7 linked regions of the Homo sapiens genome follow. The protein of the gene in region 3 purifies or fractionates together with the protein of the main gene of each other region. This does not show direct contact. Each region holds a gene or a part of one and is shown on either strand. Other genes may lie near its edges.

Region 1 (3,500 bases), on a different chromosome or scaffold from region 3:
AAGTAACAGTGACCTGACGCTGCCTGGGGCTAAGAAGAAATGGATGCCTGGTGCCAGACAGGAAAAAGGAAAAGCACAGGTGGGCAGGGAGAAGAGGCAGTGCCCTGAGAGAGGACAGAAACCCGCACTCCAGCACACACAGTGACAACACTGAGCCTGTGTTTTAGGAATTACCCGCAGCTTCCAAACCATACAGTGCTTTCTTCTGCTCCTCCTCCAGCTGCTGCTTGCTTTGCCTGCAAACAAAGCATCTGAAAGACAAGAATATCATCACCTTTTAAATATGGAGCTGCAGGTGCAGTGCGTATGCTTGGCACATATAGATGTATTTACATTCTTTTCACATACGAAAAAATTCCATTTCAAAGGCTTAACAAAATATTTTTTGGCATATTAATTAGAGGTTTCAGAATGAGACCTACTTTTACAATGACACATTCAACATGTCCTTCTCTAAAAGGTTTGGACATGAGGAGAAGCACAGCATGAGGACGCTGAGGTGCCACCTGGAGACGGTTTCTGCCTGGCCCTCCAGCTAACATAGCCTGGCTGGGAGAAATGACTGAGGCACTGGTTCCCCCAGCGGACTCCTGGGGTGAGGACTCATTTACTTTCAGAAAACAAATCATACAGGGTTTATCTGTTACAGTCAATAACAAGCAAATAACTCAGAACCATCAGCTTAGAACTTAGTCATTCGTCTAGCACGTCCTTCTGATCTTGGGGGCTGCCGGATTCACGCTGTCAAACAGGACACTGTTTGCACTGATGGAAATCGCTCATCAGCAGCCGAGTTCTTTAATGCACTGACGCAAACAGCATCTGCCTCTACATATTCTGATTTTATGGTCTCCAATTCTTCACTTAAAAAAGGAAAGGAGCTAGAAGGAGGTTCTGAAGTCTGCATGACTTAAAAGGAAAGGACGTGAGTGTCCTTCACAAAGGCGCAGCTGTCTCCACAGCCCCGTGTCCTCAGCCCCAGGCAGAGCAGAGACAGGATGACCATTCAGGCGCCCTCCATGGTCACTAGGGAGGTCATGCGGCCTGGGACAACTATGTTTAGATTTATTTAAGGTTCTATTTACACTGGTCGCATATTACTGAATACACTGTGTGGGGGTGGGGGCGGAGATATGCCAGGTGAAAGGAGTCCCTGCTTGTTCAGTGGCGTAGCCACCATTGCAGAGCCTGCAGTGGCCAAACTGGGGGACCAAATGTAAGGGGAGAGCGCAGCGTTTCCAGCTGTGTTGTCTGCACTCAGCCTCCCCTCCCCGGTGGGGCGCCTCTTTCCCTTTGCATCCCCTCTCCCTGGGCAGCTGCCCTGGCTCTGCCCCCCAACCCCTGGCACCAGCCCTTGTTGCCAGCCCGAGCCTTCTTGCTGAGGGTCCCTGCCTTCCTGTGGGGTTGAAGGCGTGGCTGGCCTGGGCTCTGCTAACCTTAGAGTGGGCTCCTGCCTTGGAGCATGGGGCTAACATGGGTGAGGGTCTCAGCCAGGGGTGTGGACAGGAGGGTGGCTGCTGAGAGTGCACACTTCAGCCAGCTCTACCAACGGTCCTGCCACCAGTGCCCTGCACACGCACAGTCACTGATAAGGTGTCTGCCATCCTTTCCTGCCTGCATTTCTCCTCCATCAGGCCCCTGCAGGGGGTAAAGGGAACCCCAGCAGGGAAAGACCCTGTGCTCAGCCCCCACTCCAACAGTGGGTGTGGGACCCTCCCCCAGAGTCCTCATCCCTGGCACAGCAGCAGCTGCCTGCGCAGGCCATGGGGACAGAGATGGGGACAGCAAGCCCCATGCACGCCTAGGCCATCATGGGCATCATAGGCATCGTGTGTCTGGGCACGCTACATCCGGCACCTTCCACCACATTTGGAAAATACTTCTGCATTCACCTTCCTAACCGTCCTGCTTCATTTCCCGTCATTTGCAAGAGAAACACACAAAGCAATGCACTTACCCTGCCCGGCAGGGCTTCCTATCCCTTGGAGATCCCACCGTGTGTTGTGCAGGGAGGAAGGACACTGTCCCTTCATAGCAGTGGTGGGAGAGGAAGGTCTTTAAACCTGGGAACAGAGTGCAGTGAAGAAAAAACATCCACAAGGGTCATTGCTTGGTTAGGATGCTGTGCTGGGCAGCTTCAGAAATGTCGCTGAGCGCGCATCTGCCTAAACCGTCTGCAGGAGGGAGAGGCCGGGCCTGCTTCAGGCCATGTCACCATTGAAGGCAGTGGCAGGGTCTCTGCCCTCCCTCAGGACAACAGCACGTCTAGTCATAGTGCTGGTGCCTTCTGACACCCAGTGATGCTGGGACAGCCAGGGCTATGGCCACTCTTGACGCTGGCAAAGTGGGGCCTTTGCCATTAGCCACCCCTCATAGCCTCGATGATGTGGCCTGTGGGCTCCAGTGGCTCAGGGTCATCCCCTCCACCTCTTCATGAGGGTCAGTGATGCCCCCACCTGCCTCAGGGCTTGGCCCCCACTGGGGTCAGCCACAGCCCCTGTGACGTCCTGAACAGCTCAGGACAGAGGCCAGGGCCGCTGCCACCCAAAGTCTGGGGCCACCCTCCAGGCAAACGTGTGCGCTGTCCACGGGGCTGCCAGCAGCCTGGCACCCGGGCTGTCTGGGAAACACCACCCAGCAGGACAGCAGGGACTGGGCAGGAGGCAGGAGAGGGGCCCCAGGGTGTCGTGGGCCACACCAGGAGCCAGGCCGTGTCCTGTGAGTCTCAGGGCGACTTCACTCCTCCGTGTCTGATGCTGGGGCTGGTGCTGCCCTGTATGACATCTGGTGTGGCAGTGACGGCCTGCAGGGCCGTCACACACAACCTTACCCCCGACACACAGAGGCCTCACATCCTCATCCGCAGATGGCAAGCCCACAGCCAAGTGTGCACCGCCCAGGGGTGGGGGAAGCTGCCGGCAAGAGCAGTCTGGCTCCTAGGACATCTGTGTGCCTGAAAGTCAGCTCCCGACTGTCCCTAGGACAGCCCCGTCTGTGGGTCTTGCACCTGGCATGGGCCAGGTGCCTGGAATGCACTCAGCGGGCGGGCCCTTCCAGGTGGCTGCAGCTCCGCCTCCCTGCAGAGTGGCTCTGGCCTCTCTCCCTGCTCCTCCCATGGGGGTCCCACAAGGACGTCGTGTCCACGGCCCTGGGAGGAGGCCGACCCACTGGTCAGCAACCTTCCAAGCCGGCTCCTCTCTCAAGTGCAGGGGGCAGGGGGGCAGCTGCCTCATCACCCAGACGCAGCCTCCAGGGTGGCGCCTCACCGACATCTGATGTCCCGGTTTCTGTCTGCCCCTAGATGGGCCCCAGATGTCCTACCGGCACCTAAAACTCCACGTGTCTCAACAGAGTGTGTCATTTCCACACGCTCATTCTCCTTCCATGCCCTCTGTGCTGCTCCAGAACAACCGGGTGCTTTCTGCCTCACAGCCACAGAACCCAAACCCGCTTTCCTGAGAGCATCTCAGGCCCTGTGGCCAGGATGGGGATCCAGAGAC
Region 2 (3,500 bases), on a different chromosome or scaffold from region 3:
TATAGAAATTATTGATGAGATACTTTACATTTTTTTCATAACAAGTTTTTAAGATGCGGTGTATACTTTTTACTTATAGCATATCCGTTAGCACCAGCCACATTTCAAGTGTGCAGTGGCCACTGTGTGGGCCACAGGTCTAGAATATAAGACATGAAGATGGAGAGTGAGAAATGCCTTTGGAAAGGTTGGAAGTTCCTGTCCTTCTGCTGCCAATTACCAAATCTCCTGAGAGTGCTATTAAGGAGTGACTCAAAGCACTACACAAAGAGAATTATAAATATCTTAATATTATATCTGAAATCCAAATGCATAATTCTTTACATTTGGTTGGTACTTTAGAGAGGAGAGAATGGGCACAGTCACCCACACCACCCATTTGAGCCTCATAATCACCTGTGATGTGGCTTCCTCTAGGTGGGAAACCGAGGCTTAGAACGGTTAAGTGACTATCCCAGGGTGGCAAGATCATAAGTGGAAGGGTGTGAATTCATACTGTCTCCAGCGGACAAGAATAAAAAGACCCAGGCTGGGTGTGGTGGCTCATGCCTGTAATCCCAGCACTTTGGGAGGCCACTGTAGGTGGATCTCCTGAGCCCAGGAGTTCATTACCAGCATGGGCAACATGGTGAGACCCCATTTTTATTAAATATACAGAAAATTAGCCCAGCTTCTCGGGAGGCTGAGGTGGGAGGATCACTTGAGTCTGGGGGATGGAGGTTGTAGTGAGTTGAGATCGTGCCACTGCACTCTAGCTTGGGTGACAGAGCAACACTCTGTCTCAGAAAGAATAAAAAGATTTGGCCATGAATTCGTCAGCTAGTTTTCCTTACATAATTTTTGGACAAGGAGATCTGACATTCATAGGTTTTTCTCTTAGAAGTGGGAGAGCTTCAAGGTCACGTGGTCCGTCCAGCCCCTGCTATCTCACCAGACACTGTCCACCCTGTATGTTGGATCAGTACTCCAGTGAGAAGACAGCAGGCACTTTCACCCATGCAGCCCATTCAGTCTTCATAACCACCTGTGATGGAGGCAAGGCAAGTATTTCAGCCCCCTCTGATGAGTGGGAAACTGAGATGTGCCCCCTCTCTGCTCCCCACCGAGGACCTCTGCATGCAGGCATGAATCCCAGGAGCCTAGCTGATATTGGAGAGACGGGGCGGGGGGAACCAGCTGCAGGGTCTTGGAGGAAGCTGCTGTGTACACCTGCAAGGCTGCAGGTTACATCTATCTGTCAAGCAGTGAAGGAAGGAAGTTGTTTCTAAGGGATTGGAAAAATTCATTAATTAGTAGAATGAGAAACTGAGGTGAAGCAGGAGGTGGCAGGGTCCCAGACAGCATGTTGGACTAGTGGCCTGTGTCACTGTGTTTTTTGCAGGCGGGTGGCATGGGGTGTATGCTGACTTCTTATTCCAGGAGTTGGTGCCAGGAGGCCAGGTTTTCTTAACATCCTTGTTTTACAGATGTCAAACTTGAGGGCCAGAGGGGTAGGAGAGGAAGAGACTTTTTGTACCTTTTTTGGGAAAGAACAAGAGGGAAGCTGGCAGATGAATTTGAAGTGCATTGACCAGGGAGCTGAGAGAGGGCGGTCTGCAGCCAGCCCACACCTGGGAGGAGGCGGCAGGCTTTTCTGGGGACAGAGTGGCCAAGTCGAAGCAAGCTTAACCATCTCAACATGACACCACTCTTTCCCATTGGAACCTGAGAACTTGTTCAGTATTCTGACACTTAGCAAGGGACCTGGGTTTTCTTGGTCAGGTGTGCGTTTCTGGGTGACAGGCCTGCATCAGGTGTATTTTCGGGATGTAGTAAGTTGTGGAATATGGGTTTAGGGGCATCCTCTGGCAAGCACTGCTTCTATCCCAGCTCTGGGAATGTGCCCCATGCAGTGTCCTAGATGGCCCATCTGTGGTCTGCTTCCAAGGGTCTTTCTTTTAGTTAGTTAGTTTTGAGACAGAGTCTCACTCCGTCACCCAGGCTGGAGTGCAGTGATGCAATCTCGGCTCACTGCAACCTCCACCTCCCAAATTCAAGCAATTCTCATGCGTTAGCCTCCTGAGTAGCTGGGATTACAGGCGTGCACCACCACACCCAGCTAATTTTTGTATTTTTAGTAGACGAGGAATTTCACCATGTTGGCCAGTCTGGTCTCAACTCCCCACCTCAGGTGATACTCCCGCCTCAGCCTCCCAAAGTCCCGGGATTGTAGGTATGAGCCAACATGCCCTGGCACAAGGGTCTATCTTTGACCAATGGAACTGCAAATCAAGCCTCTTTTGTTACCAGAGTTACCTTGGATTTACCCTTATCTACTTGGTTTGGATAAATTGAGTTTGCATCAGATGGAGTCAGGCTTGATCAATCCCTTATTTACTTCCTCCCACCCTGTTCTCTAATATCCAAAAACCTTGAGGCACTATTACATGCTAGCTACATTTCCTTGAGTAAAGTACTTAACCTCTTTGAGCCTCAGTTTCTCCATTGCATAAAAGGAATAATAAAACTTATCCCCCATAAGTTTATAGTGAGGAATGAATTAATTCCTCACTATAGTTCTAAATTAATTCTACTTAGGGCATCCTTGGTACATAGTGGGTGTTCAGTATTCATTTCATTTTCTCTTTTCTGATTCCTTTCGTAAAAGTAGAAAAATGAAAGAGAAATGTTGACTTCTCTTTTGATTTGAAATCATTAAAACATTTTAGTAAGCCTTGGGAGGGAGCTAGTGGTGTGGCATGTGTATCCCGCTGGCCAAGCACATGTGAACGAAGCCAAGAATCCAGGGGCTTTTCTGCCAGCCAGCACTGACTCACTTGCGAGGGGCCCTGCCTGGCTCGGGGGAGGCAGGGCTGAAGTACCACATTAGGGCATGTTCCGGGGAAGTAGATTCTCTGAATAACTTGGATGGCTCCCTGGAGCATTTAGGACAGAAGCCACCTGGAAAATAGAGATGGTCACCCCCACGTAGCCTTGACAGTGCCCAGAAAGTCTTGTCACTTGGTAAATGTTAACAGCTATGATCCGTTCTTTAAGACCCTGGGGAGTTTTAAGTTTTACCCCACCAGACCTGAGAAGGGTAAAGGGCTGCAGATTCTGTTCTTTTAACTGGGGCCAGTGTGAGCCATCTTTGACTCAGTGCTTGCAATAGACCTTGATTCTGCAGTGGGACCTCCCAGGCCCCCTTGCCCCCCGCAACTTCTGGACTCATATCCGTCAGACATCACTTGTCACCTTCCAGCATCAGGGAGAACTGGATCCCTCCTGGCTCCACACTCTTAGGCTCTTTGTAAGTAGCTGGTGAGGGTTTTCTTCTCTCTGCAAGGGAGGCTGGTAGAACTATGGATGTGATTCGTACAATTTTAGAGACAAAAAGAAAGTACCCAGGAGGTCATTTATTTCAGCTGCTTCATTGCATAGGTCGGGGAGTTGAGCATGGAGTCCAGCAGCTACTAACTAGTTATCTCTGTACCTGGCTTCCATTTACTGGTCCTTAGCTT
Region 3 (3,500 bases):
TTAAGAGCCTACTGTGTGGCAGATGATGAAATAAGACTATTTTCCTATGACTTGACTTTCCAACAGGAATTTCTATCGGATTTGTATTTTTTTCTCTAATTTGATAAAAGCCCAAGAATATATTTTATCCTATTTTCAGACTGAGTCAGTGTTGAAATAAATGTAGGTTTTGGTTTGTTAAAGTGCCTAACATAATGTTACAACACAAATGCAAAGCAATTAAAGTTTATAATTGCTTCATGACATACATAGAAAGAATAGTTTTACATATGTGATTCACTAAAATTATCCCTCAGTTTCCCAAAAGTATAGTATATATGTTAGCTGTATATTTTGCAGATGATAGAAATTTGAGTTCACCACATCCATCCCAACCAGCTGCTATTGGGACATTAGGACAAATCAATAGAGGGGAATAACCATAAAAATTTTGCCTGTGAAAGTGTACCTTTATGGTGTTGGTGAAAGCACAATGAACAGGAAATAAGGAAGCTGACATTCTCAGCCACCTATAAAGTAAAGGGCTTCATTAGACCATCCTTGAAAAGTAAGTTCTGGAATTTGATTATCTCTGACTATAAATGATATTCTCATATTTTGTCATTTTGCATTTTCCCTGGCTTTTTATTCTCTTCTCTTCTTTAGTTATTACCTGAGCTGTCTACATTTACAGTGTAAAATGCTGGAATAATTTCTCCAGGAGTTCATATTTGAAAGACCTCATAGGGTTTTATTATATTTCCATGAAAAGAAAAAATCATTCATATCTCTCTTAATATTGCAGATCCTGTCACAAAGCCAGTGGTGCAGATTCATCCTCCCTCTGGGGCTGTGGAGTATGTGGGGAACATGACCCTGACATGCCATGTGGAAGGGGGCACTCGGCTAGCTTACCAATGGCTAAAAAATGGGAGACCTGTCCACACCAGCTCCACCTACTCCTTTTCTCCCCAAAACAATACCCTTCATATTGCTCCAGTAACCAAGGAAGACATTGGGAATTACAGCTGCCTGGTGAGGAACCCTGTCAGTGAAATGGAAAGTGATATCATTATGCCCATCATATATTGTAAGTTTATTTTTTTTTAACTCATGAGTTGTTTTTTGTTGTTTTCTGAGAATATCTCCCAGGATAGTCACAGAGAATATAAGTACCAGATGTCATTTGGCTTTTTACCATTATTGTAGTTCAATAGTTCTAATCACACCTCCTAGGCACTGTCTTGTATGAAATATGTCTGCTAGCACAATCCTATTTCTTAAAGATCAAGTTGAAATACTGGCCAGGGGCCACTCAGGTTGTATTTCGTGATTCAGTCTATTGTGCGACCTCATTTCCAGCGGAAAGCAAGATTCTCAATTTCAAGAACCCAGAACAATGCAGAGGCTGCAATGAAAAAAACTGAAAGAATATCTTGAGAACTTTTTTCCTCTCCAAATATTACCATTCCTGAATTTAACATACTTTATTCTTCTCTTGTAAAATATTTTCTTTACATCAATTCTTTCTTCTAGCTCTTTATCTGTATGTCTTCCCATCCCTACCTGCCTGTCTTTAAACTCTAGCCATAGGTTTAAATGAAAAAGTCCTGGGGAAATTTACTTAAGCAATTATAGGCAAATGCAAATATCATTTTTGACATATACTTTTGTTTTGCTATACAGTTCATATTAATCTGGCAAAATGAAAATAACATCTTTCTTTCAACATGTGCAAGTCTATGCACCAATCTCATTATTATCACAGAATATGCTGTGATACACAGTGTGGAAAATATAAAAATGGGAGAGAAAACCATAATCAAACCTGCAAATGTTAAATATTATGCTTTAGGCTCCTAAGCCTTCTTTCCTTCACGATGTTATTTGAAAGAATGAGAATACCCCAATTTGAGTAAGTTCACACTTTACAGAATCTATCTTTTGCTGACAGACTGAACTTTCTTCTTTACATTATTTTAAACATTACCTATGAAAATCTCATAGAGAAACACCTATCACATGCAAAGACTAACGACAGATAATAGAAAGAAGAACATTTAGACAATTTACAAATGTGGCTTCCATTTACACATTGTAAAGATGAATTATCTACATGGCTTAAGAAAGATTTTGACTCATTAATTGGTAATTGTGAACATTGCATTACTAATTTTTGTCTTCACTATTTTTACTTTCAAATGCAGAATTCTTCACTTGGTCAACATCTCATCTTATTGATATTCATTCATTCACTTACTTATTCATTTATGCACTCATTCATTTATAGATTATTTGATTTTAAAAAATGAAACATCAGGGTCTTGTTTGTGCTAAACAATTACTACCTACCATATAACATGTACAAACACAACCCAGACCCATTAATTTAATAATTTTTCTTGCTATCACTATTTTAGCCCTGTTTTTGTTCTGGTTGGTTGGTTTTGTTGCTTTTGAGTAACAAAAATTAAATAAAATATATACTGTAATCTGAAGATTGGTTGTATATCCTATCTGTGGATGTGGCATCCAAATGTTTACAATCTTTATCATTCCCTGCAAGCTGGGAATATGTGCCTTGGTTGGTGTTATTCACACTTCTCTTTCTTCATCTGGTTGCCTTCTTCTTGCCTCATGACATCATCATCCTTTCCAGAAAGGTTTACCTGCCTCCACTTATCTCACCTCCTCAGTGTCACTAACAGGTTCATTGTGCTCCTTCAGCATCCTAGGCACTCTCATTCCGGGTCCTCACTGCTTTATATTTTCCTTGACTCTTGTGAACACCCCAAACCCAAACCAGAGTTCTGCATTCTTCATCTTTGTATCCATAGGGCAATAGCTGACAGAGATTAAGAAATCAATAAAGTTTCTTGAACTTAACTAAAATGGAACAGATTATCTTTCTTCATATCCCTTTTAGATTCCAGTGTTACTTGACGATGCTGTAAAAAGGCTAAATTCTCATTATAAGGTGACAGCTTCTTCATTATAGTGCTTTGGCACTTTTTTTTCCTGACCTTTAGCAAAATCAAGTATTCTGTTTTCTAAAGGCACTGTTTCTGTGAAGGGTTTTTTCATGAAAGTAGGAACTATTTTTTATTTTGGCAGAAAAAGTATAATAAAATCTATTAAGATTGACTATATACTTATGAGGTTGTGATGTCATAATCTGGTATTGGCCTTGGTGGAATACAATGTCAAGCCAATAACTCAGACAAGTATCTACTTGCAGTTCATGATATGCCTTCAAGCTCCAGTTGTAAATAATAACCCAGTAACCACTGCATTTTGTGTGCAACATATGGCAATGCTGCAGTGGAGAGCTCTAAGTGATAAAAATTAAAGGGGAAAAAAGGTCATTCACAGTAAATACTTACCATCTGCTCCCAAGCAGGGCGGCAAACAGCATCATGATGTAAATTTAGGCACTGTTCCCACACAGCCATAAATTGTTAAAGAGAACAGATGATATGTGATTTTACAAGTCATTTAGTAAACAGCCATCCCCAAGGCAA
Region 4 (3,500 bases), on a different chromosome or scaffold from region 3:
TAATTTTTATTTTCTTCTAACTGTGTTTGCTCACTTTCCATAGTGAAATTATATAACAAGAAGAAATTATTTTAAAAAATCCTAGCAATTTAATGCATTTGTTGAAGTAACTGCCTAATCTGGTATGCCTTGCACATATCAATTTTTTGTTGTTGTTGTTAAGAAACTTTTGTTGATTTTCTGGCAAGAGTAACTGAAGCACAGGCCAAAAAATACATCTCACAAGTCATGGTAAATGAAAAGCTTGGCAAAAAGAATAAAGTTGCCCTTAAGATGCCTATGCTTCCATTTTCAACCTAAAACATACTGCCTCTCTTCCACACGTGAAGGTATTTTCATTCAGGGAACACGTATATAGAAGTATACAAGTGTAAGAAAAGCAAAGCATATTGACTACGCATCTTGATTCACATCCTTCAATAACTTGGCTCTGACTGCATAATTCCTACTTTTGTGATACATTCCCAAAGCACTCTGTGCTTTAACTATGAAAGCCATTCAGAGATGGGAAGGATGGGCTAACCTGCAGTGTGGGGATGCATTCCAATGACTAGAGGAGGTGTCCCAGAGGAGGTTAGCGGACTGCTTGTTAAGCATTACTTGAGTGCCCAATCTTCAAAATCTCTTTCATCCCCAAGATTCTATGGTTCTGGATTATTTTAGTGGCACATAAATTAGTAAGCACTCTGGATTTTGTCCATTTTCATCATCATCCAAACTTATCTCAATCCTATAGGTATTAATATATTTAAAAGCCATCACTTCACTAATACAAAAAGAGGAAAACATGTAGTTATGAATATAGCCATTTTCCATAAGCTTCTGTTCTATGAACTTAGAGCTATGAAAACGACACCACTTGAATCCAAGGTATGATGAACTACAAAGACTCCATTCATCAACCATTGCACTACAACCACAATCTAAACTCTCTAGCTCACTTGCTGATAATAGCTCAAGATTTATGAACCTTATACTAGACTGACATGCTCTTTAAACTCCTCTCACTTGAGATTCATAAAATTTAATACAATTTTCCAGAGCTGCTGCTGAAAGCATCAATGATAGATGTTAGTGGTTTTCAAAGTAAAGGCAAAATAGAAAAATAAAACTGCCATTCCACTTGGCTGGTCTTGTTTTAACCTAAGGCTTTGTTTATGCAGTCAGTCTACAGTGATGACACTGAATGAATAATTCAGATCTCAGAGGTGTTTGGTCAGGATATCGTAGAGCCCAGAGAAGATAGGAGTCTGGTTCAGTGGGTTCAAATATGGAACCCCAAATCATGTTCAAAGTACACATTCCAGGTATCACTCTAATTCAATAGTTATGTATTTTAAACATGCTGATTAAAAATACCCTAACAATTCAAACTCTTCAATCCCTTGGTGACTAGTCACTCAGTCTATAGATTAAAATAGTGCATATGTCTGAAGGAAGTATCACCTGTCTCCTTTTGTGTTTTCCAGCCTAATATGAATAACCAATATCCTTTTCTATTTCAGAAGGCTACACTATCTTCCTAACAAAAAAATTTCTGAAAGTGTAGCTTGTGAGGATCTTAGAATTTAAGCTTCATCCCTTTGGCTTTTCATGGTGATTTCTTTTTGAGGTCCATTATAACTCAAGTACTCATCAAAAAGATCTTTATAACAGAACACTGGTTAGGAGTAGTCTGGATTAAGATATATTCACAGATCCATGAATAGGAAAATTAAATAAAAATCTGTCAAAAAGTAGACCTTGAACACACTATGTTTATGTGATTTTTAAGACATAAACAAAAAATGCAAAAAAAAATTTCTCATTTCCAGTAAATTAAGGTATAGAATACAAAAAAAAAAAAAAAAAAAAAAGAGCTGGAAGGGCTTACAAGTTCCATAGTGCCCTTCTAATTCTCTGAGACCTGACGTCAAAGTTTTATGCACAGATTGATACTCATTTTCAAAAATGTCCTGGATTTCCTCTAAAGTTTATAGTAACTAATTTCAGAGCAAAACTTTTTTATTTATAACAAATTTTCTTAAGTCTAGCCAAAAACCTTCTGGATGTATTCACACAGGGCCACCACACTGTACTACTGACATAGTAGTCTAGGTGAAGGGTGCTCCCAGAGTTGTGTTGTATACCACCTGTACAGCTGTATGCAGCAGCCCTGATTTACTCTACCTTCAATGAAGAAGAAAACCAACTGATCAGGAGAGAAAATAGCTCATTGTCATCATGTGAACATCTTTTAAATTTAGAATGATTCTTTTTTTTCTTCTTCTGGTTAAACAATTATAATTACTTTGCATTTTCTGATAGGTACAACACTCCAGACCTTTCAAATGTTTTAAACTATTCACCTTGGCACCTTATCTTTGAGACTTTTTGTTTAACGTGTTAAAAAATAAGAAGACAGAACAGGAAATGAGTAACCTTGATTAATTATACCCTGACCAATTACCTCTGCTTCTGCCATCCAGTTGCTGTCCTTTTGAATTGTGCCAATGGACATCTTCATAGTGACTGGCTGTGAGAAGACACTCAATTGAAACGCTAGTTCCCTCTTTGGCTATGATGACATCATCATCCGAGTGGGAACTTGCTGAGAGTTCAAAGCTTGAGGGAAAGGATGCATTGTAAGAACTACGATTTGCTTCCAGTGAAACCATTTGGTCGAAGTCCACATCTTCCAAAACAAAAGCAGCTGGCACAATAATACTTGCCACTAAAGTGAATAAGCAACAATGTAGCTTCATGGGAAAATGGGACAAAATCTTGTTTAGATTTGGAGAACTCAAAAACTTCTACACTACAACAAAAGCACAGCGGGTAATTTATTGCTTGGTAGAGAAATTTTCCAAACAAGTGGTAGATCCAGTTATATTTTCTAGTCTTCAAGATTAAAAGATGTGAGTAGAGAACCTAAAAGAAAGCCAGATACAAAGTTTAACCAACTGAGATTCATAATGGGGTGAAAGTGCGTATGTTCCAGAATGAATAGATGTTAATTAGAATAATTGGTGCTGACATTGGGGAGTAATTAGATGGAACAGTACCTAAAAATCTCACACAGAGACAGCAGAAAAAGCAATGAATTGGTAAATAGCAGACCTAGATTTTGGTCCTAGCTTTGCCACTAACTAGCTGTACGACCTTGGCAAGCAGCATTCTCTCTGGGTTTCTGTTTTCTCCTCTGTCAAATAAGGGACTGGATGAGATAATCTCTAAGGACTCTTCCAATTCTGAAATGCCATGATTCTATTTCATTCTGACAAATTTTATGCAACAGGGAGCCAATGAAGGCTAAAATATTTATCTTAATGATCTTTTATTTCAACCTGCACCATTACCATCTGTTGTTATAATGTAAATCAACTGGCATATCATAATCATAACCATGGAGCTCAAAATTTGAGTAATTCAAGTATGAAGATATGTTACATATAAATAATGCAGGGACACCTGAGGTGGGTTGTTTTAACACTGGAAAGAAAGCTGCACTTACTGCATAC
Region 5 (3,402 bases), on a different chromosome or scaffold from region 3:
CTTCCTCATCCTGATGGTGGCCTCTGGCTTCCTCCTCCCCACAGCGGCTGGCTAACTCCAAGGCCCACACGTCACGCTTCATCAGTGCCAATCTGCCTTGTAACAAGTTCAAGAACCGCCTGGTGAACATCATGCCCTATGAGAGCACACGGGTCTGTCTGCAACCCATCCGGGGTGTGGAGGGCTCTGACTACATCAACGCCAGCTTCATTGATGGCTACAGGTAGGTGCCATGCCTTTCCCACCTCAGGGCCCCAGAAGGAGCCCATCTCTACTCTCAAGAGGCCTCCAGTCTTGTGGGAGACAGAGCTGGGGAGATACTGGTAGCCCTGAGCTGTTTAAATACACATCTTTAGATGTATATTTAACTGATGGCTGCTGTCCGTGAATCTTTGGGTGTGTGTTTAACTGATGGCTGCTGTCCATAATGTGATTCCATCTGTTCTATCAGTGGTTCTCAATTGGGGTAATTCTGACACCCTGAGGATATTTCTTATTTTCATGAGTACTACTGGTACTGCCTGGGTGGGGACCAGGCATGCTGCTCAGCATCCTACAGTACACAGAACAGCTTGTCTCAGAGAACAATCCAGCGCCAAATGTCAATAGCACTGAGATTGAGAAATCCTGGCAAAGGAGGGGAGGGTGTTCCTGGCAGAGGGTGCCACATGTGCAAAGGCCCGGGGCTGAGAGCTTGGCCCACGCAAGCAACTGAAAGTAGGGCAGTGGCCCTTGAAGGAGATGGAGGGAAGAAATCAGGAGAGGTTAGTGGATAGTCCCGCAGCTTTGTCAAGGGATTTGAATTTGTCATGAGACTGGTGGTTTCCCCACATGCAAAATGGGATCACCAGGAGGGGAAGTGGTGCACCCAGCAGCCATTCCTGGCAGGCAGTGGGGTGGTAGGTGTAGCTGTCACTGGCTTGGTCCTGACCCTCCCGGGCAGCATCAGGTGAGTACCACGCCGGGTCTCCCTGCCGGCCCTGGGCTCATACCCCCAACGCCTGCAGGCAGCAGAAGGCCTACATCGCGACACAGGGGCCGCTGGCGGAGACCACGGAAGACTTCTGGCGCATGCTGTGGGAGAACAATTCGACGATCGTGGTGATGCTGACCAAGCTGCGGGAGATGGGCCGGGTGAGCTAGGGGCCACAGCAGGGAAGGGCGAGGGCCAGACTGTGGCTCAGACAGCGCTGACCACGGCCGCCATCTCCTCCACAGGAGAAGTGTCACCAGTACTGGCCGGCCGAGCGCTCTGCCCGCTACCAGTACTTTGTGGTAGATCCGATGGCAGAATACAACATGCCTCAGTATATCCTGCGAGAGTTCAAGGTCACAGATGCCCGGGTGAGTGAAGAGACAGACTGGCGGGAGGGGCTGGAGCCTTAGTGATCTGGAAAGGGCTGCCCTGGTTGGTGATGGATACAAAGGCCAAGGGTTAGGCATAAGCATTGGGAATCAGGAGAAGTGTCAGCTGACCAGTTGGCCACTTGCTTCTACTGCCACATAGGTGGAAGAGAGGGTCTTATCTCTGTGCTGACCCTGCAGTGTCTCCACTCACTAGGGAACATGGCCCCAGGGGATGATATTCAAGGAAGTGAATGGGGCTTTCCTCTGGAAGCAGCCACCTGTGGAGGATGATGTTAAAGGGCTGAAAGGGACTTGAGGGATTGAGGGTGAGGGGTGGTAGACGGTGGACAAGGAGAGTCAGATGGTGGGGACTGGCACCGTTGGGTGAGGAGAGATGAGTATGGATGGTGTTGGCTCAATGAAGGACTGCAGTGTCAGGTGGAGGGAGAAAGGCCAGGTATTAGGTGGCAACAGATGAAGACTCATAGTGGAAGGTGGCCCTGTTGGGTGACAAAGGATCAAAGTTAGTGGTGGAAGATCGACGATGGTAGAGAACGCAGTGAGGGGATGATAGAGGATGGGGAATGTTGGCCAAGATGATGCCAAAGGATGGTGAAGGCTGCTGAATGAACAGCAATCACCGGGCATTGTGCTGTGAGCAGTGCAAGATGGTGCCCTTGGAGGGGTGGAATCTGGAATTGGAGAGAAGAACATTCGCATAACAGGATGGAGAATGTCAGTGGAATGTGGTAGTTTGGGTCAGTGAAGGGTGATGCTTTATCAGTGATGGATGGAGGAAGACAGAATTGGAGAAGGGCAAATGTTTGGCCAGCAGGGGGTGGAGAAAATCAATGGGAAATACTAGGACTAAGAAAGGACAGTAAACAATAGTCAATGGTATAAACCAATGGGTGGTACAAGATTGAGGAAGATGGGGTTGGGAAAGGAGATTTTAGAAAATGTAAAACATCAGGGAAAGATGGTACATTGGATGGCAAATGGTGGCAGAGGATAACAATTTTGGATGGCACCATTTTGATGGTGGAGGATGGGATTAGAACAAGGCAGATGATGGGGAATGGAGAATGTCAGTGGAAGATGGTACCCTTGGATGGTGGAGAGTGATGAATTGTTAGTGATGGATGGTGGAAAATGGCACCATTGAGTTGTGAAGGATGGAAGATGGCAGAGAATGATGTGGTTGGATGGCACCACTGGGTGGTAGGAAAGGAGACTGCAAAGAGGAATGGTTGAGTAGTGGGGAATGAAGACAGTCAGTGGAAGATGCCATCACTGAATGGTTAAGGATGAGTTACCAAGAGGGGATGGTGGTGGATGATGGAAGATGATGGTGTTGGGTGGAACTCGGGACGGCAGAAGGTAGTGAGTTACCAGCAGTGGGTGGTAGCAGTGGCACTGTTATTGGATGGTGGAAGATGATGGTGTTGGATGGTGGACGATGAAAGATGATGGCACCATTGGGTTGTAGAAGATGAGTCATCATTGATGAGCTATGGACAGTGATGGAGTTGAGTTGTGCTGTAGGGCCCCGAAATGGCACAGAGTGGAAGATGACAGAGGATCATGGTGAATAGGAGCTGGGAAGGGCAGAGCTGGTTGCACTATGGGATGGCAAAGGATGGAGGATGGAGGTGCTGGATGTCATACAGGAAATGTGGGGAGAGGAACAGCTGGGTGGCAAGAAGTGGTGAGGATGAGGTTGGAGCATCTCTTATGGAAAGCAGTACCATTGGATTGTGAAGGACGGTAAGTTGTCAGGGTAAATGAATGGCAGAGAGTGTACAAAATGGGGGTGAGGGCCGGGCCTGGTGGCTCATGCCTGTAATCCCAGCTAATCGGGAGGCTGAGGCAGGAGAATTACTTGAATCACTGGAGGTGGAGGTTGCAGTGAGCCGAGATCACGCCATTGCACTCCAACCTGGGCGACAAGAGTGAAACTCCATCTCAAAAACAAACAAACAAACAAAAAATGGGGGTGAAGATAGGGAGGATGGAGAAAAACCCCCATGGCCGCTGCTGACCTGATAACAAGAT
Region 6 (3,500 bases), on a different chromosome or scaffold from region 3:
ACCCTGTGGAAACCAAGGGAGAAGGTCCAAGAAGGCTCAAGAATCTTTACTTTTTATACTTGATTGAGCTTCGAGCTTTGTCAAAGGTGGCTCCATATTTTGAGCGCTCAATTGTCGATCTTTACACTGGAAATGCAGAAGAAGATGCTGACACAAAAACTCTTCTACTGAATATCTTTCAAGATACAAAGTAAGAATTGACTATCCGTGATTTGAAATTCTCCTCTCTGTATTCAAATGAGGTAGCACTTAAAGTACACAAAAACTGACTCCTAAAAGTTAACCGAGGGGAGATGTAGAACAGAAAAGGAAAGTGATCAATAGAACAACAGAATTTAAAAATATTTCTGAAAATGTTGATGAAAAAGCATTAATAAGGCTTTCTTTTGCAGAAATTTTCACACTTGAGAATAGTGCTTTAAAATATCACTAAATTTTATGTAGTATCAAAATTTAGTGCTACTTTAATGGTCTTTCTACCAATTTTGTATTCTTCTAGTCACTTTATTTACTTACTTATTTTTGAGACAGAGGCTTGCTCTGTTGCCCAGGCTGGAGTGCAATGGCACAATCTTGGCTCACTGCAGCCTCTGCCTCCCAGGTTCAAGCAATTCTTGTGCCTCAGCCTTCTAAGTAACTGAGATTACAGGTGTGTGCCATCACACCCAGCTAATTTTTGTATTTTTAGTAGAGATAGGGTTTCACCATGTTGGACAGGCTGGTCTCAAGCTCCTGGCCTCAAGTGATGCACCCTCCTCTGCCTCCCAAAGTGCTGGGATTAGAGGCATGGGCCATCGCGCCTGGCCTCTAGTCACTATATTTAAATTTAGATGATAATATACATGTGTTTGCATTGGGATGGATATGTAAGGAAACATTAGCCTTATCTTCTAGAATATAACCTTTTAAACAAAACGCTTGGTCAAGAAAACTTGAGTTAACTGGTTTTTAAAATAGCCTGGAAGAGAAAGATTAAAAAGTGTTTAAAGTAAATTATGTATTAAATTTTTAAAGAATATTAAGGGAATATTGCCTATTTTTTACATAGATTGTTTTCAGTTAATTTTTTAGATTACCTGTGTCATTTATTTAAAACATTACAGTCTTACTAAATTTAACAGCCATCTGTGTCTTGCTTTAGTCTTTTATGAAATAGTTTATGTGTGAACTGTTTGTCACTTTTCTACATTACCAAAACTTACATCGGAGTAAATAATGAATTTTAAATATTCATAAGGATAGAAAATTTTATCAGGTTTCTGATACAGAGTACGTGGATTTTTCATGTGTAACTTAATCCAATACTATCATTTTATCAGGTCCTTTCCCATGCACTTTGATGAGAAATCCATGTTTGCAGGTGACAAAAAAGGGGCCAAGTCACTAAAGGTAAAAAGTTCTCGATTGGGACACGGGGTTGGGAGCAGTTTGCTGGTTATGCTTTAATGCTGTGCATCCAAACTGTTTTCTTTCCCAGTTTTCCAGCTTCTTGTCAGAGTTGGTCTGATTGGATTTTAATACAAATGGTACAAAAAGCCTTTCCATATTTCTCAGTTCCATTGACCAACTGCTTAGTGAATCATTGGTCATTAGTATGTCCTATAACACCTTTATAAATGTCTTTTTAAAAGATACTAGTTGAGGGAAAGTTTTCTTAGTTTAAAAGCAGTGTATATTGTCGTTTTGATGCAGCTTTCAGAATACCATGAGCTTTTAGCCACTTTGAGGACAATAAATATTTTTCTAAAGTTTATTTTATGGAATGTTACGGTTTTTGAAACATATATTATGTTTTTGTCCCTTTGGACTAACTTAAAAGGTTAAAACTACCTGTTAACATGTGACATCAGAAGGAGAATATGTTTTGGGAACATTACCAAACTTCATGTTAGGTGTTCTTTATTTTCATTTGCTTAAAGTACATTAAGAAACAAATTGTACCCTTAAAATGTTCATAAAAGTATTTGAAATTGGCATTTTTTTTTTTTTTACTTTTAAATTTATTTTTTGAGATGGGGTCTCGCTATGTTGCCCAGGCTGGTCTCAAACTCCTGGCCCTGAGCTGTCTTCCCACCTCAGCCTCCCAAGTACCTAGGATTACAGGCACAAGCCACCATACCTGGCCACAAATAATCTTTGAGTACAACTTCATAGTCTTTTATATGTACTTCTGAAATCCGGGTAGTTTCAAAAACTGAAACATTTTCTTATGTTTAGTGCAAGGTAATTTTTTAGCAAAACCTGACCTAAACTGGTGTAAGAATATAGCAGATATTCGTAGTTTTGTGGGGTTGTTTTCAAATTCTGCTTGGTATGAATTTTTTATATTTTGCTACAGAAACATTAACGGATTTGACTGCAGGGTGTTTCCTCACACTCTGGTGAGATGTTTCATAATATACAGTACATGTACTGTATTTCTAAAATTTAAAAACTTCTGAATTCTAAAACACATTTGACCCCAAGATGTTTTAGATGTGGATGTACTATAGGAACCAATAAATCAATACTGAGTGATTCTCCTTTGGCGAGACTTTCTTGGTATTTCTGAAATAAGTAATTTAGTCACAACTATATTTTAGTGTTGGAAGGTTGTTTTATTTTACAGTTGTTTTAGAGGTATATTGCCATTTTGGTATTTTGTATGTTAATTCATTTTTATAATGCTTCCTGTTTTCTAAGTATCAACACATATGTTCTACTTTTAATCTTCAGAATGATCTTGTGTAATAGGGCAACTATAATTATGTATGTTTTTGTAGATGAGGAAAGTGAGACTAAGCAAAGCCTAAGTGTCTCACAGCAAGCTTTTAACTACACAATGCTGGGATTTTGTTTGCTGTTTGTCAAGAATGTATGAAGGAGAACCTATGTCCCTTTTCCATCTGCTGCAAAGAACTTACATTACATGAGAATATGACCAGCACAGGAGTTTTTGTGTTCTATTTATATTGTCTTTCTTTGCCAAGGTATTGATTCCTTTCAACCCTCTGGCAGCTGGTCAGGGCTTGTGGTAGCCAGAGTTTTCAGGCTACTTGCCTCCCGCTTCATGCAATAAAATATTTCCCTCAATGCAATAAAATGATTTTTATTTTCTGCAGTTGCCATGTGAAACAAATGAGGAAATTTTCTCTTAACCAATCTTATCCGCAGATAAAGTGAGACCAACCTTAAAGGCATATTGCACACAAATGCTTATAGGCAGAAGAATTTCCCCAGTGTAGGAAACTTCTCTTTTTTTTTTTTTTTTTTTTTTGAGACAGAGTTTCACTCTAGTTGCCCAGGCTGGAGTGCAGTGGTGCGATCTTGGCTCACTGCAACCTCCACCTCCCGGGTTCAAGCTATTCTTCTTCCTCAGCCTCCCAAGTAGCTGGGATTACAGGCATGCACCACCACACCTGGCAGATTTTGTATTTTTAGTAGACATGAGGTTTCACTATGTTGTTTAGGCTGGTCTCAAACTTATGACCTCAAGTGATCACACCTTGGTCTCCCAAAGT
Region 7 (2,885 bases), on a different chromosome or scaffold from region 3:
CTATATATTAGACACAAAAATTAGACACATATATAGGTATCTATGAAGTAGGTACTAGCCTTTTCCTTTTACAGAGAGACAATGGGGTTCCAGAGAGGCTAAATGATTTCCACAGGGTTATTTCACTGGTAATGGCCTGGAGCAAAATTAGTATTTGGCTCTGCCTAGTGCCTAAGTACATGCACTTAACCTCTGCAAATACAGTGTTCTAGAACCCTCATCATTGAATCCGGAGGTACTTGTAGTCATTTGTGACACTGGAGTCCTAGCCTCCAAAGGACTTTCAGAAGAGTCTTAGATTAGTTCCTAAGAAAGATTTCTACAATATGAACTTAGATGAATTTGAAGGGTGCCCGGAAATACAGATGTTGGAGAATATGCAGGAAGAGTTTAGAGGATGAGAATGCTAAAGGAAAATGGAGTGGAGTGGTGAATGAGCAGAATGAAGATGAAAGGGCTGGTCAGCTAAGGAGCCAGGACAGGGCAGAGAGTGTGGCCACTACATTTCACTGTGGGGTATCTTCATGCAGGAATCACCCCAATGCTACAGCTGATCCGGGCCATCCTGAAAGTCCCTGAAGATCCAACCCAGTGCTTTCTGCTTTTTGCCAACCAGGTTGGTTTGTTTTCCTCCACCCTAAGACTTCAAAGTTGCTGTGTGGGTAGGGCTGAGAGACGTGGTATGGATGGGCAGAACTGGCCCAGTGCCCTGTTTTAGCCTCTGCCCAAGGTCCCCTCTGTAAGGCACAGGGTCCTCTTTCAATAAGGAGGAAAAGGACAGAGCACTGAATCAAATTCCTTCCCTGGTCCCCAAGGAAAGAAGAAAACTTTTAAGGTATCTAGTCTGGAGCACAGAAACTTAGATCTTCTTGGTTAAATATTCATCTTTGTTCCTTCATAATGTGTAGATAAAGGCTGTTCCCCTCTTCTCCTCATCCTAACTCCCTAAAAGCACTGCAAGTCTTGCTTATTTCCTAGAACTTTTGCTTTCCCTTAACATTCTTTTTCTTAGTTGGAAAGTTGTATAGCAGAAAACTTTTTATGTGGGCCTGAGAAGACTCCTAAAGACTTTCCTTCCCCTTTGCATTTCAGACAGAAAAGGATATCATCTTGCGGGAGGACTTAGAGGAACTGCAGGCCCGCTATCCCAATCGCTTTAAGCTCTGGTTCACTCTGGATCATCCCCCAAAAGGTATCCTTCCCATTTCTGGACATCCCACTATCCCCTCATCGTCAAAATCAAAGCCTTGCCCCTTTGTGAATTCTGGCTTCATTGAAATCAACCTTGCCTCACACTGCCAACTCGGAAGTCTGAGTGCACAGACACAGTGATCTCCTGGTCCCTTTCCTTTGGGTTCCTGTTTACCAGGTGGGTGACAGGGATGGCGGTGCTGCTAAGGCTCAGCTTGAGGCAGGCTGAGTATACCCATTCCCAGCTGCTGCTACCACTTGACACTTTCTCCAGAGCCTTTCAGGGCCCTCCCCAGTCTCATGGCACCACACCCCCTTGCCAGCATGTATCTGGAGTATTAAGTACTTTCTTCTCCCCATACTTCAGATTGGGCCTACAGCAAGGGCTTTGTGACTGCCGACATGATCCGGGAACACCTGCCCGCTCCAGGGGATGATGTGCTGGTACTGCTTTGTGGGCCACCCCCAATGGTGCAGCTGGCCTGCCATCCCAACTTGGACAAACTGGGCTACTCACAAAAGATGCGATTCACCTACTGAGCATCCTCCAGCTTCCCTGGTGCTGTTCGCTGCAGTTGTTCCCCATCAGTACTCAAGCACTATAAGCCTTAGATTCCTTTCCTCAGAGTTTCAGGTTTTTTCAGTTACATCTAGAGCTGAAATCTGGATAGTACCTGCAGGAACAATATTCCTGTAGCCATGGAAGAGGGCCAAGGCTCAGTCACTCCTTGGATGGCCTCCTAAATCTCCCCGTGGCAACAGGTCCAGGAGAGGCCCATGGAGCAGTCTCTTCCATGGAGTAAGAAGGAAGGGAGCATGTACGCTTGGTCCAAGATTGGCTAGTTCCTTGATAGCATCTTACTCTCACCTTCTTTGTGTCTGTGATGAAAGGAACAGTCTGTGCAATGGGTTTTACTTAAACTTCACTGTTCAACCTATGAGCAAATCTGTATGTGTGAGTATAAGTTGAGCATAGCATACTTCCAGAGGTGGTCTTATGGAGATGGCAAGAAAGGAGGAAATGATTTCTTCAGATCTCAAAGGAGTCTGAAATATCATATTTCTGTGTGTGTCTCTCTCAGCCCCTGCCCAGGCTAGAGGGAAACAGCTACTGATAATCGAAAACTGCTGTTTGTGGCAGGAACCCCTGGCTGTGCAAATAAATGGGGCTGAGGCCCCTGTGTGATATTGAAAGGGTTGTTGTGTCTGGGGTCCTTGTTTCCAAATCCCCGAGGACCTAGGGAGGAAGGGTTTGCCACCATGCAACTCTCCCAGGTGTTCCAAAGAACCTTTGAGAAGTTGTACCATGTGCTGAAATGTGAGCTGCCAGCAGACTCAGTGATCATCTCAGCAGCTGTCTCAGCAGAGCCAGAGCTCCGCTTCTCCCTGGAGGCTCTCGAGGTGGGGGAAGGAGAACACACATTAGAGGGGACATTTTTGAGCCCAGCTGCCCCTCACAGTGTTCCCTTGATAGGCCACTCTTCCCCTTCTTCCTTCTCTTGGCCTATCCTTCACCATATTTATCCTTCAGGGAACCTGGCACACAAATCAAAGTGTTGTCTTTCTGTTTGGAAGGGAAGCCTTCTTCTTTAAAAAGTAACCTGACATCACCAGCCCTGGCCGGAATTGTTGATGCCCAGATAGAGTTGGCCTCCCCCAGGCTCATCTGTCCTGAGTACCCTTCTCCTCTGCTA

The links.
Region 1: the proteins of HEPACAM2 (region 3) and CERK purify together in Homo sapiens (affinity purification with mass spectrometry; 3 studies listed by BioGRID and IntAct, with this or other methods). This does not show direct contact.
Region 2: the proteins of HEPACAM2 (region 3) and FGFR1 purify together in Homo sapiens (affinity purification with mass spectrometry; 3 studies listed by BioGRID and IntAct, with this or other methods). This does not show direct contact.
Region 4: the proteins of HEPACAM2 (region 3) and MFAP3 purify together in Homo sapiens (affinity purification with mass spectrometry; 3 studies listed by BioGRID and IntAct, with this or other methods). This does not show direct contact.
Region 5: the proteins of HEPACAM2 (region 3) and PTPRS purify together in Homo sapiens (affinity purification with mass spectrometry; 3 studies listed by BioGRID and IntAct, with this or other methods). This does not show direct contact.
Region 6: the proteins of HEPACAM2 (region 3) and ERO1B purify together in Homo sapiens (affinity purification with mass spectrometry; 3 studies listed by BioGRID and IntAct, with this or other methods). This does not show direct contact.
Region 7: the proteins of HEPACAM2 (region 3) and CYB5R1 purify together in Homo sapiens (affinity purification with mass spectrometry; 3 studies listed by BioGRID and IntAct, with this or other methods). This does not show direct contact.

What each region holds. Positions count from the first base shown.
Region 1 is NC_000022.11:46,693,253-46,696,752, forward strand, and holds part of CERK (ceramide kinase), read right to left. Parts: intron 2,064-3,500; coding exon 1,958-2,063; intron 252-1,957; coding exon 175-251; intron 1-174. UniProt on the Homo sapiens protein: Catalyzes specifically the phosphorylation of ceramide to form ceramide 1-phosphate.
Region 2 is NC_000008.11:38,458,636-38,462,135, reverse strand, and holds part of FGFR1 (fibroblast growth factor receptor 1 isoform 1 precursor), read left to right. Parts: intron 1-880; exon of another isoform or gene 881-1,029; coding exon of another isoform or gene 1,030-1,040; intron 1,041-3,500. UniProt on the Homo sapiens protein: Tyrosine-protein kinase that acts as a cell-surface receptor for fibroblast growth factors and plays an essential role in the regulation of embryonic development, cell proliferation, differentiation and migration.
Region 3 is NC_000007.14:93,212,970-93,216,469, reverse strand, and holds part of HEPACAM2 (HEPACAM family member 2 isoform 1 precursor), read left to right. Parts: intron 1-784; coding exon 785-1,069; intron 1,070-3,500. UniProt on the Homo sapiens protein: Required during prometaphase for centrosome maturation.
Region 4 is NC_000005.10:154,048,967-154,052,466, reverse strand, and holds part of MFAP3 (microfibril-associated glycoprotein 3 isoform 1 precursor), read right to left. Parts: intron 2,911-3,500; 5' UTR 2,745-2,910; coding exon 2,450-2,744; intron 1-2,449. UniProt on the Homo sapiens protein: Component of the elastin-associated microfibrils.
Region 5 is NC_000019.10:5,208,411-5,211,812, reverse strand, and holds part of PTPRS (receptor-type tyrosine-protein phosphatase S isoform 1 precursor), read left to right. Parts: intron 1-44; coding exon 45-223; intron 224-1,007; coding exon 1,008-1,134; intron 1,135-1,218; coding exon 1,219-1,344; intron 1,345-3,402. UniProt on the Homo sapiens protein: Cell surface receptor that binds to glycosaminoglycans, including chondroitin sulfate proteoglycans and heparan sulfate proteoglycan.
Region 6 is NC_000001.11:236,222,959-236,226,458, reverse strand, and holds part of ERO1B (ERO1-like protein beta precursor), read left to right. Parts: coding exon 1-190; intron 191-1,319; coding exon 1,320-1,389; intron 1,390-3,500.
Region 7 is NC_000001.11:202,961,373-202,964,257, reverse strand, and holds the end of CYB5R1 (NADH-cytochrome b5 reductase 1), read left to right. Parts: intron 1-530; coding exon 531-616; intron 617-1,092; coding exon 1,093-1,192; intron 1,193-1,558; coding exon 1,559-1,731; 3' UTR 1,732-2,385; downstream 2,386-2,885. UniProt on the Homo sapiens protein: NADH-cytochrome b5 reductases are involved in desaturation and elongation of fatty acids, cholesterol biosynthesis, drug metabolism, and, in erythrocyte, methemoglobin reduction.